Linked DNA regions of Homo sapiens: region 2 is linked to region 1. Evidence: fine-mapped expression QTL. Tissue or cell type: whole blood. Region 1 holds a variant in brackets; the other region holds the start of a gene. All regions are shown on one strand. Distances are between the middles of the regions.

Evidence for each region. PIP is the estimated chance that this variant, and not a neighbour inherited with it, causes the effect.
Region 2: it holds the start of EXOC6, and the variant in region 1 is fine-mapped to the expression of EXOC6 in whole blood (TOPMed, PIP 0.96). The same link has a PIP of 0.9 or more in monocytes.

What each region holds. Positions count from the first base shown.
Region 1 is chr10:92,918,161-92,926,265 of GRCh38, forward strand. It overlaps EXOC6 (exocyst complex component 6), which reads left to right. Exons shown (of 22, transcript NM_019053.6): 8 at 1,822-1,890. Among named protein-coding and RNA genes, the nearest start is that of EXOC6, 74 kb to the left of the region's middle. The variant A/T (reference allele first, on the strand shown) is at 5,004.
Region 2 is chr10:92,844,883-92,852,987 of GRCh38, forward strand. It overlaps EXOC6 (exocyst complex component 6), which reads left to right and starts at 3,638. Exons shown (of 22, transcript NM_019053.6): 1 at 3,638-3,752. The coding sequence starts at 3,652. RefSeq lists silencers at 3,455-3,604, 3,745-4,084.

The DNA of each region.
Region 1 (8,105 bases):
AATTATCTCCACAGAATCTTCTATTGAACTTACCTTTTATCGTCCTTTTCAATTTTTTTTTAAATTTAGCTACTATCATAGGAACCTTGTTATTCCCAATTAATTTATAAGTTTTGCCTTGCCAATGAGATTTTAAATTCTTTTTCTAAGGACATAATTGGGATGCAGTAAGAATTTTTAGTTGAACCATACGACTATGTGCTCATGACTGCATTTGTGAATGGGTGAACAGCTGAGTGTTTACTATGTGCATTTCTTTTTTTTTTTTTTTGAGACAGGGTCTTACTCTGTCACCCAGGCTGGAGAGCAGTTGGCATAATCATGGCTTACTGTAACCTCAAACTCTTATGTTCAAATGCTCCTCCTGCTTCAGCCTCCCAAGTAGTTGGAACTACAGGCACATGCCTGTATATACTATATCCAGCTAATTTTTTTATATTTTTTGTAGAGATGGGGAACTGCCGTGTTGTCCAGGCTGGTCTTGAACTCCTGGCTTCAAGTGGTCCTTCTGCTTTGGCCTCCTAAAGTGCTGGGATTGTAGGCGTGAGCCACCACACCCAGCCACTATGTACATTTCTGCTGTATATCTGAGGATGAGGTGATACATATGTACATAGTCACACAAATATATATGTAGTATATATGTAATATATTTGTGTGAATATGTATGCACATATGTGTATGTGTGTATATATGTGTATATATGTATATATATGCGTATGTAGTGAATGTCTGCTATTGTACTGAATACAGACAAATGAACAGCTTCAAACAGTTAAATGCCTTCCTAATGTGGAATTAGTATGTCCTGATTAGTCCCTTGAAATTATTATTAGGTTTTTTGTCCCTTTAAATTAAATAAATATTTTTGACCTCTGCTTTTTTGTTCTTTCTAAATATTCAGAGGACCTCTGTATTATTTTCTCCTTTGAGGTTCAGAATGTTGAAAATAGACCATCTAGTCTTCTTACTTCAATTTTCCCCTTCCTGTTCTGTATATCTTTCCTGCTGGGAGCATCACCATCATGCCTTACCCCCAGACCTTTACATTTAGAGGAGCTTGGTGGTTTCCCTGTTCTCTCAGATCTATTTTACTACTATACTGCACTACATTTTGTTTTTATCATTTTCCCTAATAAGCAATGTTATAGTAAAAATAATTTAAGTTCACTCTGGAGATTCACATGAGTACAAATGTGTTCCTTTAAAAAGGGTTTATGTATTTCTCAAGTTTGAGAAACTTTATAGTACTACATTTCATCAATTGTAAGGCATTTTTTTTTCCACATAACATTTCAGAATATAGGATACATCTTAAAGATGATGGTGTTATAGTTTTAAGTGGTGGTGTTTTTTCTTTCTTAGCAGTCTGTAAAATAATACTGATAGTGTCTTTAATTCAGTGCAATAATGACCAATCATATGACATAGCTGCGTAAGAACAGGAACTTTGTCTATAGCCAAATCATGAAATCTGTGTATCATTTTTACCCAAAACAATAATAAGGTATCTAGTTATCCATAGCAGTTTTCTGTAATCTATCATACATATTAAAAATATACAATTTCTCTCCTTGGTTACCTTAAGTTGAAAACAGTCCACAGTGATAATAAACATACTACAAAGAATAAACTGCTGAAGAAATGCCAAAACAAAATAAAGAAGGTTTTGCGTTTATAGTGTATGCTTTCTATGGGGGAATTGAATAAATGTTGTAACACAAAGTTCATGAATCTTCTTGCCTATCTTTAACTTTACATTATCTAATGGTGGTCTAATAGTTTGACCTATAATTTTTTTAAAAATGGTTTAATTTTCAGATCTTAACTGTTCAGGATCTTGTTGATTTTTCCCCTGTTTATCGATGTTTGCACATTTATTCTGTTTTGGTAAGTATGTTTTATATTTATGTATATATAGCTTTATATTATTTAAAAGGCATGTATGTATTTTAGGCCCTAAAAATTGATCATATGCTGTAAATCTTCACATAATTCTTTGTGAAATATCCACTCTGTGTAAGGCACTTACATTTTTTGTTTACTTATCATAGTGTAATTTCAAGTGATATACCATTTCATGTATATTTTAAGAACCTTGTAATAGTATACTTCCATTTCTCCCTATTGCCTTTGTGCTGTTGTTACATCACAGTTCTTATAAGTTACTTTTACATGTGTATTCCATACTACATTGCTCTTATTTTTGATTTAATGTTCCTTTTTAAAAATAACTGCTTTATTGAGATCTAGTTCACATACGAAAAAACTTACCCTTTTAGAGTATACAATTCGGTGGTTTTAGCATATTCACAAGGATGTGCAACCATTACCACTACCTAATTCCAGAAATACCCATTACCCACCCCTCCAACCACCCCCAAAACATCAAAAATGTGTATCTGGCTGTTATTAGGTGGTGTGTTCTATAGATATTTGTTAGATGTAGTTGGTTTATAGGGTTGTTCACGTCTTTTACTTCCTTGTTGGTCTTCTGCCTATTCTGTTATTGAAAGTAGAAGTATTGGAGTCTTCAACTATAACTGTTGAATTGTCCATTTTTTCTTTCAGTTTTGCCAGTTTTTTATTCATGTATTTTTAGGGCCTTGTTGGCAGGTGAATATATGTTTATAATTGTTATGTCTTCCTGATGGATTGACCTTTTTTAAAAAAATCATAAAATATCTTTCTTCATAATATTTTTTGTCTTAAGGTCTGTTTGGCTTTAATTAGTATAGCCACTCCAGCTTTCTTCTGAGCACTATTGGCATAGCATGTTTTTCCCCATCCTTTTACTTTCAGTCTCTTTGTATCTTTGAATCTAAAGTATGTCTCCAGTAGGTAACACATAGTTCAGTCTGTTTTTTTAAATCCAGTCTGCTGATCTCTGCCTTTCAATTGGAGTGTTTAGTTCATTTACATTTAATGTAATTACTGGTAAGGTAGGATTTATGTCTGCTCTGATGTTTGCCATTTGTTTTAACATGTCTTATATCTTTTTTGTTCCTCTATTCCTCCATTAGTACTGTCTTGTGCATTAAATAGATATTTTCTTATGTACCATTTCATTTCCTTTGTCATTTCCTTTTTTTTTTTTTTTTGTGCTGGAGTTTTGCTCTTGTTGCCCAGGATGGAGTGCAATGGCATGATCTCAGATCACTGCAACCTCCGCCTCCTGGGTTCAAGTGATTCTCCTGCCTCAGCCTCCCAAGTAGCTGGGTTTACAGGCACCCGCCACCATGGCCAGCTAATTTTTTGTATTTTTTTAGTAGAAATGGGGTTTCACCTTGTTGGCCAGGCTGATCTCGAACTCCTGACTTTAGGTGATCCACCCGTCTCGGCCTCCCAAAGTGCTGGGGTTACAGGTGTGAGCCACCTAGCCCAGCCTATTTTCTTAGTATTAGCCCTGAGGATTGCAATTAACATCTTACTTTAAAACAATTCAGTTAGATTAATACCCTTTTCTTTGTGCTATTGTTTTCTTTCTTTCTTTTTTTTTTTTTTTGAGATAGGGTCTTGCTCTGTCACCCAAGATGGAGTGCAGTGGCGTGATCACAGCTCACTGCAGCCTTGACCTCTTTGGGCTCAAGCGATTCTCCCACTTGAGCCTCCCAAGTACCTGGGACTACAGGCTCATGCCACCATGCTTGGCTAATTTTTGTATTTTTGGTAGAGGTAGAGTTTACAGTATAGTCTTACTGTTTTATGCTGTAAATTTAATAAACTTTCATTAGCACAATAACTTCTGGCTGGTATATATAACCAAAAATTATTTGGTAAAGCTAATTTCTTTCTTTTTTTTTGAGACAGAGTCTTGCTCTGTTGCCTAGGCTGGAATGCAGTGGTGCCATCTTGGCTCACTACAACCTGCGCCTCCTGGGTTCAAGCGATTCTACTACCTTAGCCTCCCAAGTAGCTGGGATTACAGGCGCCTGCCACCACGCCTGACTAATTTTTGTATTTTTAGTAGAGACGGGGTTTCTCCATGTTGGCTAGCCTGGTCTCGAACTCCTGACCTCAGGTGATCTGCCCACCTCAGCCTCCCAAAGTGCTGGGATTACAGGCATGAGCCACCGTGGCCGGCCACTAATTTCTTATTATTGTTACAACTCTTCTTCCTTCTACTTGTTATTCCAGTTCTGCCATTTCCCAGCATTATAGCATTGGGAAAATTACTTCCCTTATTTGAGTTCCTCATTTGCAAAATATGGTTAACAATTTCTAAGGCTATGTTGGATATTATAGTCAATATAAATAATAAAAGTGCTTGGTATAGGACCTGGTATAAAATATCAGGCAGTAAATGTTAAAGGGGTTATTATAAAAGGGTTACATTAATATGTATGCTTTCAAGGACTGTTGACTGTAAGTCTACTTTAGCCAAAAAAGCTCTTTGTCCGAAATCCTAAGGTATCCTACTCTATTTGATCAAATATGAGTATTCCATGAAAGGAAAATAGGTATAATGTCAAAAAAAGGGATTCTCTTTGGAAAATGCTGCACACAATATTCACAATATAGCTTATCATAGCTTATCATTTTTCAGACTTTGAGAAGTCCTAAGAGCTTCTCTGACTTTACTTAGCTGGCTGTATCCTAAACTTTGAGTATAGGGATCATTTTTTTTCTTAGAATACTGAATATTGAATGAGTTAATTTCCTAATTATCTGATGAATACCAAATATAGTGTGCGAATTGCTGCCCTAGGAGTTTTTAAGGGTATGTGAAGGCTTTCCAAGGGGCCCTGGGCTAGAAACTTTAGGGAAATAAATTTTAGGTCCAGGCTTTCTTTCTAAAAATGATCTGTTTGGGAAGCCCAACCTGTCTTCAGAATAGTTCTTCTCTTACTGTTGGTGCTCTGCTCAGATTCCCTTGGGTCCCTTTTCAGCTAGAAGCTACCCCACATCAGATTACCAGTGTTGAGATTAATAAGTTATGGTGTGTAGATATGGTGTTTGAAAGCCTAGCTTCCTTGCCTAGATTAGGACAACACTGAGGTATA[A/T]CTTATGCTCTGAAGTTGCAGTGTGGAATCAGGCACACAATTTTTTGCCTTAGATGGTACCCTTGGTTGGCTTCCTCTTGTTCCTTTCACTTTCTTCACTTCTTGAACAGTTTCCTTCTTCAACATTTCTTTAGTTTATCATTGATCTCAGATTCTGTTCCTAGGACAGCTACCTAAGATAGTGACCATATTAGTTATCAATTGCTGTATAACACACTGCCTTAAAACAACAAACATTATTATTCCACAGTGTCAGCAGTCAGGGAGTCGCTTAGCTGGCTGGTTCTGGCTACAGGTCTCTTATGAGATTCTAGTCAAGATGTCATGAGGACTGCTGTCATCTGAAGGCTTAACAGGGGCTGGAGGATTTGCCTCTATGATGGCTGCTGGTAGAAGGCCTCAGTTCCTTGCCACATGGAGTGTCTACTAGGCTGCCTGAAAGTCCTCATGACATGGCAGCTGGCTTCCCCCAGAGTGAGTCATCCAGGAGAGAAACCAAAGTGGAAGCCATCATTCCTTTTATAACACAATCTCAGAAGTGACATACCATTACTTCTGCTTTATCCTATTCATCACATAGATGAACTCAGGTGCATTGTGGGAGGGGACCACACAAGGGTATGAATACCATGAGGTGGGGATCTTTGGAGGCTGTTTTGAAGGCTACCACGTTTACTTTATAAATGAAAATCATACCCTTCACTGATACTCAGTACTACCATGGTGCATTGTCTTGAGGTGTAAAAGCTTCCAGGGTGCCAAATAAAGGAGAAGTCTCCTTTAATTATTAATCAAGGAACTGTATTGGGAGTTCCTTCCTTTCCATTTTTGCACAAATTTCTGTTAAGGGTAAATCATATTAGGAACAGTATATTTTGTCCTGTGGTAGGATATTCTGAATTTAGATATGTAGTAGGGAGTAATGACATAGGTAGGAATAACGATAGTTTCCTTTTAATGACCTGTTCTTTTTCCCCCTAGCTATTGACAACAAGTAATTGCTTTTAAGAGAGAGTCCCTGTGAGAGTAGAGCAAAGAGAACACAGAGAATTTTGATTGCTAAAACTATGTCCTATGTGTTTAAATGTAAACAATGATTTTGACTAATCTTAATACTCTTCGTTAGGATGTATCATTTGCTGTAAAGAAAAACACCTTTAAACAGCCAAATGATATGGGTTAGTAAAGCTGTATCTTTTAAACATGAATGGAGTGTTTTCTGGGGCTGCCAAAAATTTTAAGTTACACTGGCTAACTTTATTTTTTCATATTCATGTACATTATGATTCGATAAAGTGGGTAAAGCTGTTTAGCTGTCATAAGTCTAAGTCCAATTGTTTAATGTTTTCTACTTCATATTTAAAGTAAACCCTGGCTATTCATTTTTAGCAGCATATACCATTCTCTTTTGTTAAACACCCAGAAAAAGGATGGTCATCATATCTAATGAAATTAATGGAGTTATGCCTGATTTTATTGTTTGATTTATTGATTAATAGGGGTGCATTTTTTAATGTACTTTTATTTATTTTAGTAGCTTTAGGGGTACAAGTGGCTTTTGGTTATGTGGATGAATTGTATAGTAATGAAGTCTAGGCTTTTAGTGTACTTGTCACCTGAATAGTGTACATTGTACCCAATAGGTGATTTTTTTCATCCTTCACCCCACTTCTGAATCTCCAATGTTCATTATACCACTCCACATGCCTCTGTATACCCATAGCTTAGCTCCCACTGATGAGTGAGAACATGCAGTATTTGGTTTTCTGTTCCTGAGTTCTGTCACTTAGGATAATGGTCTCTAGTTCCATCCAGGTTGCTCCAAAAAATATTATTTTATCCTTTTTTATATCCCTGATTTTTATACTTGGTTGTATTTAATTATTTCCAAAAGTTGAACAGGTTTTATGTATGTCCACATGTTAATGGAAGGCATGTAGTATTGTTTATTATGCTCCTTACTTCATAAAAGCTTAGAATTTTAGTTGTATATTACATTGCATTATTGTAAATTAAGTAATGAAAACAGAATAAGTAATGAGAAACTGATTTATTGTCTTGATTTTAAGGGTGTGAATGCACAAAACAATCACACTGGGTTTAAATAATATTGACTGCTTTTTGTAATTCCATAAATTTTTTTTTTTTTAAGACAGAGTCGTGCTCTGTTGCCCAGGCTGGAGTGCAGTGGTGTAATCTTGGCTCACTGCAACCTCTGCCTCCCAGGTTCAAGCAATTATCATGCCTCAGTCTCCCAAGTAGCTGGGATTACAGGTGTGTGCTACCACATATGGCTAATTTTTGTATTTTTAGTAAAAACAGGGTTTCACCATGTTGGCCAGGTTGGTCTCGAACTCCTGGCCTCAAGTGATCCGTCCTCCTCGGCCTCCCAAAGTGCTGGGATTACAGGCGTGAGCCAATGCACCTGGCGTTGGTGATATTATGGTGTAAACCCATAATTTCTCAGTGGTTTTCATGATGTAATTTTGTTGTTATTGTTTGTTTGTTTTGTTTAAGAGATGGGGTCTTGCTGTTGTCCAGCCTGGAGTGCAGTGGTGAGATCATAGCTCACTGCTGCTTTGAATTCCTGGGTTCAAGTGATCCTCCTGCCTCAGCCTCCTGAGTAGCTGGGACTACAGGTGCATGCCACTATGCCTGGCTAATTAAAAAAAAAATTTTTTTTAAAGAGATAGCTTGACATGCTGCCTAGGCTGATCATGAACTCCTGGCCTTGAGCAATCCTCTGATTTCAGCCTCATCTTTACTTTTTTTGAAGTGAAACTTGGAGTCAGACTTTTCTTGAGAGACACTTAGTACAATTTGACTTATTAGTTTGATCATGAGGACTGGCTTTGATAATTAGATTTTAGGTTTTAGGGTGGACTTTTTAAAAAAAAAAAAAAACAAATGCCCTAAGTCTGCAGGTCAGAATTTGAACCAGAAAGTATATTATTAATGGGGGAAAAAAAAGTCTCACTCATTCTATTAAGATATTTATTTCCAATAAAAATGTACTTTTGGGTTTACTCATTATCAAAATGTATGATATACTTAGGCCATTTGCATCAGTTTAGTACTGATTATGATAATTTCACTCAGAAG
Region 2 (8,105 bases), 73 kb before region 1:
TGGAATTTGAATTCAAGTAGTTAAATGCCAGACCAGAGCAGTTGCACTCTACAACCTCATTCTGAGGGAGGCGCTTTCCCAAGACAGGTCATTAGTCTGTAGATAAAAGGCGCAAAGTTAAGTTCCTAATGACTAAGAGTTTATTTACAAGTCAAATCCTTACTTTGCCAATTACTTTTATACTGGACACAAAATGCATCTCCTGTCCTGCTGGTCTTCCTGGTGTATCTTTCTTCTTCCAGGAGTCCTGAAAAGAGATTTTGGATTGATCTCTGGAAGTCAATATCCACTGCCAAAAAATAATTCCACATGCATCTGCAATCTGCCTGTCTGTGCCCTGCTACTCCGCAACCTTCTCAGTGCAGACGTTAAATCATTCACTCCTTGGGGCTGGGCGTGGTGGCTCATGCCTGTAATCCCAGCACTTCAGAAGGCCAAGTCAGGGCAATCACTTTAGGGAAGGAGTGTGAGACCAGCCTGGCCAACATGGTGAAAGCCCATCTCTACTATAAATACAAAAATTAGCTGGATGTGGTGACATGTACCTGTAATCCCAGCTACTCAGGAGACTGAGGCAGGAGAATCGCTTGAAAGCGGGAGGCAGAGGTTGCAGTGAGCCAAGATCGCACCACTGCACTCCAGCCTGGGCAACAGAGAGAGACTCCATCTCAAAAAAAAAAAAAAAAAAAAATCATTTATCCCTTGGATAGGCTTCCCCCACCCCACATTGACATATTTGATATATCTATGTCCATGATTAAAATGTACAGTTAGGGCCGGGGACGGTGGCTCACGCCTGTAATCCCAACACTTTAGGAGGCCGAGGCGGGCAGATCACCTGAGGTCGGGAGTTTGAGACCAGCCTGACCAACATGGAGAAACCCAGTCTCTACTAAAAATACAAAATTAGCTGGGCGTGGTGGCACGTGCCTGTAATCCCAGCTACTCCGGAGGCTGAGGCAGGAGAATCACTTGAACCCAGGAGGCGGAGGTTGCAGTGAGCCAAGATCACGCCATTGTTACCCAGCCTGGGTAACAAAAGCGAAACTCTGTCTCGAAAAAACCAACCAAACAAACAAAACAAATGTGCAATTAGTTATTTAGGACATTTAGCTTTGAATTCTTAGCTAAAACCTCCAGGTACTCACGGAACTGTCAGAAGTCTCAGAGGGAACCAGCAAAAACTGTTTCAGAAGGAGAAGTGGTAAATGGACTTCCTTCCATGTTCACTTGAATTTCGGGGAAGATACTGCTGCTTATGTTGAAGTAATCTCTATGGGCAGGTGTTGAAACAGGGCTGGCCTGAGGAGTGCCTAAGCAGGGCTGGTTTCCCAGAGCAGGGGCACTTGGAGCCAGCTTTGGAATAAAAGGTATCAGGACTGGTGAAGAAAAGGGGTAGAGTTCTAGGGAAGGAATGATCAGGAAAGTAATTCCCCAGCTGGAGACATTGGTCAAATAGGAAACTGGCCTGTGCCACATGCCCTGCTCTCCTCATTTTGCTCATTATCATAGTTCACCGCAGCCTCGAACTCCTGGGCTCAAGCAATCCTCCTGCCTCAGCCTCCCAAAGCTCTGGGATTATAGGTGTGAGCCACTGTGCTCGACCTAAGAAGTTCTTGAGAGGGGAAAATAACCTTTTGAAAATTGAAACTGAAACATAAAAAAAAGAAGACAAATTTTATCCCCTCCCACAAAAAGAATGAAAAGCTAGGTCTCTCTGCAGGAAATGGAAGACTGTCTTAGCTCAATGGATGTGTATAGCTGGAATCCATTGCTCTGAAGATTCCAGATTAATAGGAAGGAGGGCATTAGCAATGTTTTATAGGGCCCTTCCTAAGTTTGGTAGGCAGTGGGTCCCACTGATGCTCACATTCTAATCCCTGGAACCTGTGCATATGTTATTTTTACATGACAAAGGGGGTATTGCATATGTGATTAAGGTTAAGGACCCTGAGATGGAAGATTATCCTGGATTAAATGGTTGGGTCCACTCTAATCATATGGGTCCTTAAAAACTGAGCATCTTTTCCAGCCTAAGTCAGAGTCAGAGGAAGATGTGACCACAGAAGAATGGTCAGAGAGATGTAATGCTGCTAGCTTTGAAGATGGAGGAAGGGGGCCACAAGCCAAGGTATGTGGGTGGCCTCTAGAAGCTGGAAAAGGCAAAGAAACAAATTCTCCCGCAGAGTCTCTAGCAAGGAACACAGACATGCTGACACCTTGATTTTTAGCCCAGTGAGACCTGTGACAGACTTCTAACGTACAGAACTGTAAGATAATATGTCTGAGTCATTTTAAGCTACTCAATTTGTGGTGATTTGTTAAAGCAACAATGGAAAACTCATACACCATGGGACAGCAATATGAGGCAGACACTGCCATTGTCATTTACAGTCATTTAACTGACATATAAAAGAACTAGGTTCTTGCCCAATGTCACACAGCTGTCAAGTGATATTAATCCAAGAATTAATGTCTTCGGACACTGGTCTTCAGAGCTCATGCTCTAACTATTGCACAATACCACCTCCCAGGATGTTTGTGGGGAGGAGGCTGGAGGTAGGTTTCAAGTAAAAGCTCACTAAGGGTGAGTGAGTTACACAGCTGGATAAAGAGCTTGGTTGACTCAAAGGGAAGCTTTTCAAAGCCCTGGATTAATGTAGAGCAGAAAGTAGTTGTTCCTCAGGCTAGGTTTCCATTCTGTTCCTGTTTAGTCTTCCTTCCTCCCTGCTTTGATCATGACAAACTGGTTTACTCAGTGTCCCACAAACATGTCATTAAGCACGACTTTTTTCTACACTGATACCTTTGTCCAAGCCTCCCTGCCTCTCTCTCCCACCTCCCTGCTGCTAACCCCCTTTCAAGAGCTCTCACCCCTTCTCAACCCAGCTACTCTGACCTGGGGGCACCTGAGTTCACGGACTTTGGTATGAATTACACATCGCCCTGGGCCTTTTTTTTTTTTTTTTTTTTTGGTATCTCTGCCATCAAGTGTCTTAACTTCTCATCATTTAATTTTTTATGTCGCTTATAATTTATTTCCAAGTTGACTGGCCGCTGTGGACTTCTTGCAGGCGGGGACATGAATCCACCTGGAGCGGTCTTCATGGTCAACTGGGATCTTTATTCGTTCCTAAAATAAATCTTACTATCACATGCAATTTTGCTTTTCGTGAGTGCATGTTTTCCTTTCTCTGACTCCCCACGACCCAGAGTACATCAGGCCCTTGTTAAATGTCCCCGTGGCTCTTATTACAGATTCAGGGTGATGATCTGAGTGTCCACCTTGCTGATTACTACGGTACCCCCGCGTGTGGCACAGGGTGTGGCACACACAGAAGACAAGGAGATATGTTAAAGCCCAAAGGCCAGGCACAAGACGCCCAGGAGGGACTAGTCGCGAGAGAGGGCAGGAGGCCAGCTGGGTACCCGGCCGCCGCCCGTAGCCCCAGCTCACAGCCCCCGCTCACTCCTGCAGGTGCGGGGGCGGGAACCGGGTCGCGCGCCTTCTGCCCGGCGTTCCGCGCGCCCCCGCGCCGCCGGCCCGAGCGCCCCGCCCCCGCCCCGCCCCTTCGCGCTCGCGCCACTTGGAGCTCGCCCCCGTCGTTCCCGCGGCGCCGCGCCTCGCTGGCTCCTCAGCTTCCAGCCAAAATGGCGGAGAACAGCGAGAGTCTGGGCACCGTCCCCGAGCACGAGCGGATCTTGCAGGAGATCGAGAGCACCGACACCGCCTGTGTGGGGCCCACCCTCCGGTAAAGATCTCATCCCACCGGGACTTCGGCCCCCCGCCCCACGCCGGCCGCTCCTCACGAGCCGGGCGGGGCGTCCGCCGCCGGCCGCGCGCGAAGCTCCCCGACAGGTGGTGCGCGCGGGGGCGGGCGGGGGCGCTCGCGGGTGGCGGAACTCTAGCCGGTACCCGGGCGGGACCGAGAAGGCGGCTGCACCTGTCGGCGCGGCCTGCCTCCACCGCTGTAGCTGTCACCCCGCAGCCGGTGGGTGTGGCTGCTGCAGGGTCTCTAACCCCGGGCCCCGCGCTGCGGCCCCGCGTTCTCCTCCTGGCTGCGGCCCCCGGGCCCGAGGACACTTCTGGGGCCTGCCCCCGTCTCGCTCGTGGTGGGGCTGAGGGCTGCTCGGCCGCGGGCATGCCAGGCTAGGGTCGACAGCAGGCACCCGGCGTGACGGAGGTGCCAGGTCGCGCGCGGGTGGAAAGCCTGGCGCGCCGGGCTGCCGCGGGCGTGGGAGAATTGAAATTGAGCGGGAGACGCCGGCCCGCTTTCCCCCTACTCCCCCGCGCGGCCGCAGTGGGCGAGAAGAGAGCGTGGGCTGGAGAAGAGAGCGTGGGCTGGAGGAGAGCAGCTGCTTGCTGCTTGGGAACACGCTAGGGTGACCCTGCGCTCGCGGGATCTAAGCTGCTTTGGAGGCAGAACAGCTTTTACTTATTTACAAACATTTCATTAAAATTGCATTAATTTTTCCGTTTAAATCGAGTTCCTCCCCATTCATTTTAAGAATAGTACTAGGTAATGCATATTCCATGCCAAACTGAGTACCTGCTGTTCCAATAGAATATTATTAGCCAGGCAACGTAATGAGCCATGGGTTAGGTTAGGCACTGTCTTCAAGAATAAGTTCCTTTTACATATAAGGTTTCATCTTTTGGAGTGATAATAATGATAAATGAAGTTATTATTCACTTAGGGAACTTGAGACTGATTATGCTTTATCATTAGTATTCTTCAGAATACACTTCCTAGAATAGAGCGCTGTACAGTTTGTGGACCTGTGAATATAGTGTAAATTGAAGCCAGTTCAAGTTATGTAAATACACCTTGCCCTTAAGAGTCAGGAGGCCTGGGTTCTTGTTTTGCCCTAATTCTGCCTCTGATGAAATGTGCAGTCATGGAAAAAAATTATTTAACCTCTCTGGATCTCGGTTTCCTTATTTGTAGAATGGGGAGGGGAGAGTATTCAGATGCCCAGGAAACTCAGAACATTAGGGACCTTGCCTATTTGTTCACTACTGTATCCCTAACACCAAGCATGTGGTAGGCATGTTATAAATTTTTGTCACATAAGGTTTCTGCTATGATATGATAATGCATAATTAGTGCATTTCCTTAATTTTCCAACATTATTATTTCTTTTAATAAACTGTATACTTGGTAATGAAAGAAGTAAGATTAAAAGGAAGCTTTGTTTTCATCACTGCATCTTGAAACTGAGAGTGCAGTGTGTGATAAAGTTACTAGAGTAGTTTATTTGTGAAAATAGTACTGGTTATGAAGGAGGTGCTTCATCTTAGGAAAATGTGCTAGGTAGTGTCCTTGAAAAAAGATGAAATTAACTTAGAAGAAAAATTTGAAATATATTGAGAGATTTTTGGGACACTCAGGAACAGAATATGTGTATTCATAGTGTTATTCTGTTCTTTTTTGCTGGGCAGTTGTTTCAACTGGCTCATTTTGTTTGAACCCACTCTCTTTTCTTTAGCAATCCCTGGTGACTCATACTTATCCCATATATATGTATATTTGTGTCTCATTTATAAGCAGACGCTTTTTGCACACATATAGAGGGTACTGCTAGCAGTCTTTTCTCTTGAACATTGTTTAAGCTACTACTATTTTTTCCCTTTTTTTTCAGGTTTCACGAAGTGAAGTGTTAATATTGCATTTTTAAAAACCATTTATTATGGAAAAATTTTAAATGTTTAAAAAAGTAAAATAGTGTAATGAACCACCATGAACTGTCATCTAGCTTCAATTCATTCCCTGGCCAGTCTTGTTTGATCTCTTCCCTTATCTACTCCCTATCATCTTGGATTATTTTGAAGGAAATCCAAGACATCAATTTATTCATAAATATTTTAGTATTAAGATTAATTTTTGTTGTTATTTCCTAATTATCTTTTAGCTGGCCTGTAGACTTATCATTTTATTTATATTGTTTTTTCTCAGCGGCGGGATTTTTCAGCCTGATCTTTTCCTGAGAAGCACGTGATAAACTTTCCGCAGGCCCTGACATATAACATGGTTCTTTGACCACAACAGAAGTATATTAGAAATCAGTAGTTAAAAAAAACAAAAAAACAAAAACTATCTGGAAAATTCCCAAATATTTGGTCATTGACTAACACACAAAAAATAAATCAAAAGAGAAATTAGAAAGTATTTTAAACTGAGTAAAATGAAAACACAGCATATCATTTGTGAATGCAGCTAAAGAAATAGTTAGAAGTTTATGGCACCAAACACCTCTACTAGAAAAGAATGGCTTCAGCTCCTAGCCTAAGAAACTAGGAAAAGAGGAGCAAATGAAATTCAGAAGAGTGGAAGAAAGGAGATGGTAAAGATCAGAGTGGTATTCAGTGAGACAGAAATACAGAAAGTCAGTGAAACTCAAAACTGGTTCTTTGAGGAGACTGTAAAATTGATAAACCTTTAGGGGTAGAAAAGGAGACGATACAAATTAAAAATAACAGGGCCAGGCGCGGTGGCTCACGCCTGTAATCCTAGCACTTTGGGAGGCCGAGGCAGGCAGATCACTTGAGGTCAGGAGTTTGAGACCAGCCTGGCCAACATGGTGAAACCCCGTCCCTACTAAAAATACAAAAAAATATTAGCTGGGTGTGGTAGCACACGCTTGTAATCCCAGCTGCTCGAGAGGCTGAGGCAGGAGAATCGCTTGAATCCGGGAGGCGGAGGTTGCAGTGAGCCGAGATTATGCCACTACTCTCTAGCCTGAGCGACGGAGCGAGACTCCATCTTAAAAAAACAAAAACAAAAACAAACAAAAAAAAAACAAAACCAACCAACTAACCAAACAAACAAAAAAACGGGAGTGAGAGAGGTTACGTGACTATAGATTCTACAGACATTAAAAAAAGGTTAAGAAATATTATGAATAGGCTGAGTGCAGTGGCTCATGCCTGTAATCCCAGCACTTTGGGAGGCTGAAGCAGGAGGATTGCTTGAGCTCAGGCATACAAGACCAGCCTGGGTAACATAATGAGACCTTGTCTCTACAAATACAAAAATTAGCTAAGTGTGGTGGTGTGTGCCTGTGGTCCCAGCTACTCGGGAGGCTAACGTGGGAGAATGGCTCAGAGTCTGGGTCGTTAAGGCTGTAGAGAGCTGAGATTGTGCCACTGCACTCCAGCCTAGGCAACAGAGTGAGACCCCCATCTCAAAAAATGTATATATATTATGAACAACTTCATGCTCATACATTTGGCAACTTAGCAGAAATGGACAAATTAGTTGAAAGATACAAAGTATTATCAAAGTTCACTTAAGAAGAAATAGCTGAATAGCCCTGTATCAATTAAAGAAAGGGAATTTTGCTGTTATAAGCCTTCCCCAAAAGGAAACTCTAGGCCCAGATAGTTTTACTGGTGGATTCTACATCTTTAAGGAAGAATTAATGCCAATTCTACAAAGACTTTTCTGGAAAATTGAAGAGGAGGGAATATTTCCCAGCTCATTTTGAGGTCAACATTAACCTGATACCAGAACTAAAGAAAGAAAGACATAACTAGAAAAGGAAACTAAATCAGTATTCCTCATACACACAGATTTTACAAAAAATTTTAGAGAATTAAATCCATATATGTGGATTTAAAAGTATAAAATACATCTATATAAAAAGTATATTCTGTATATGTATATATGTGTGTGTATATATATGTGAAGAATACATCATGATCAAGTGAGGTTTATTTCAAGAAAGATGCTGGCTTAACATTTGAAAAATCAATGTAACATTGTTCACCATATTAAACAAAGAAAAGTTGTATGATCATATATGTGGAGAAAGCATTGACAAAATCGAATATTAATTCCTGATTTTAAAAACCCTCAGAAACTAGTAATGGAAATTCCTCAGCTTAAAACAGGGCATCTATGAAAATCTAGAGCTAAATTGTGCTTAGTGGTAAGAGTCTGAATGCTTTTCCTCTAAAATCAGGAATGAGGTAAGGATATTCATTCTCACCACTTCTATTCAACACTGTACTAGAATGTTGAATATAAGGCCGGTATAATAAGACCATTTAAAAAAAAAGCATCTAGTTTGGAAAACCGTCTTTATTTGCACACTGTGTGATC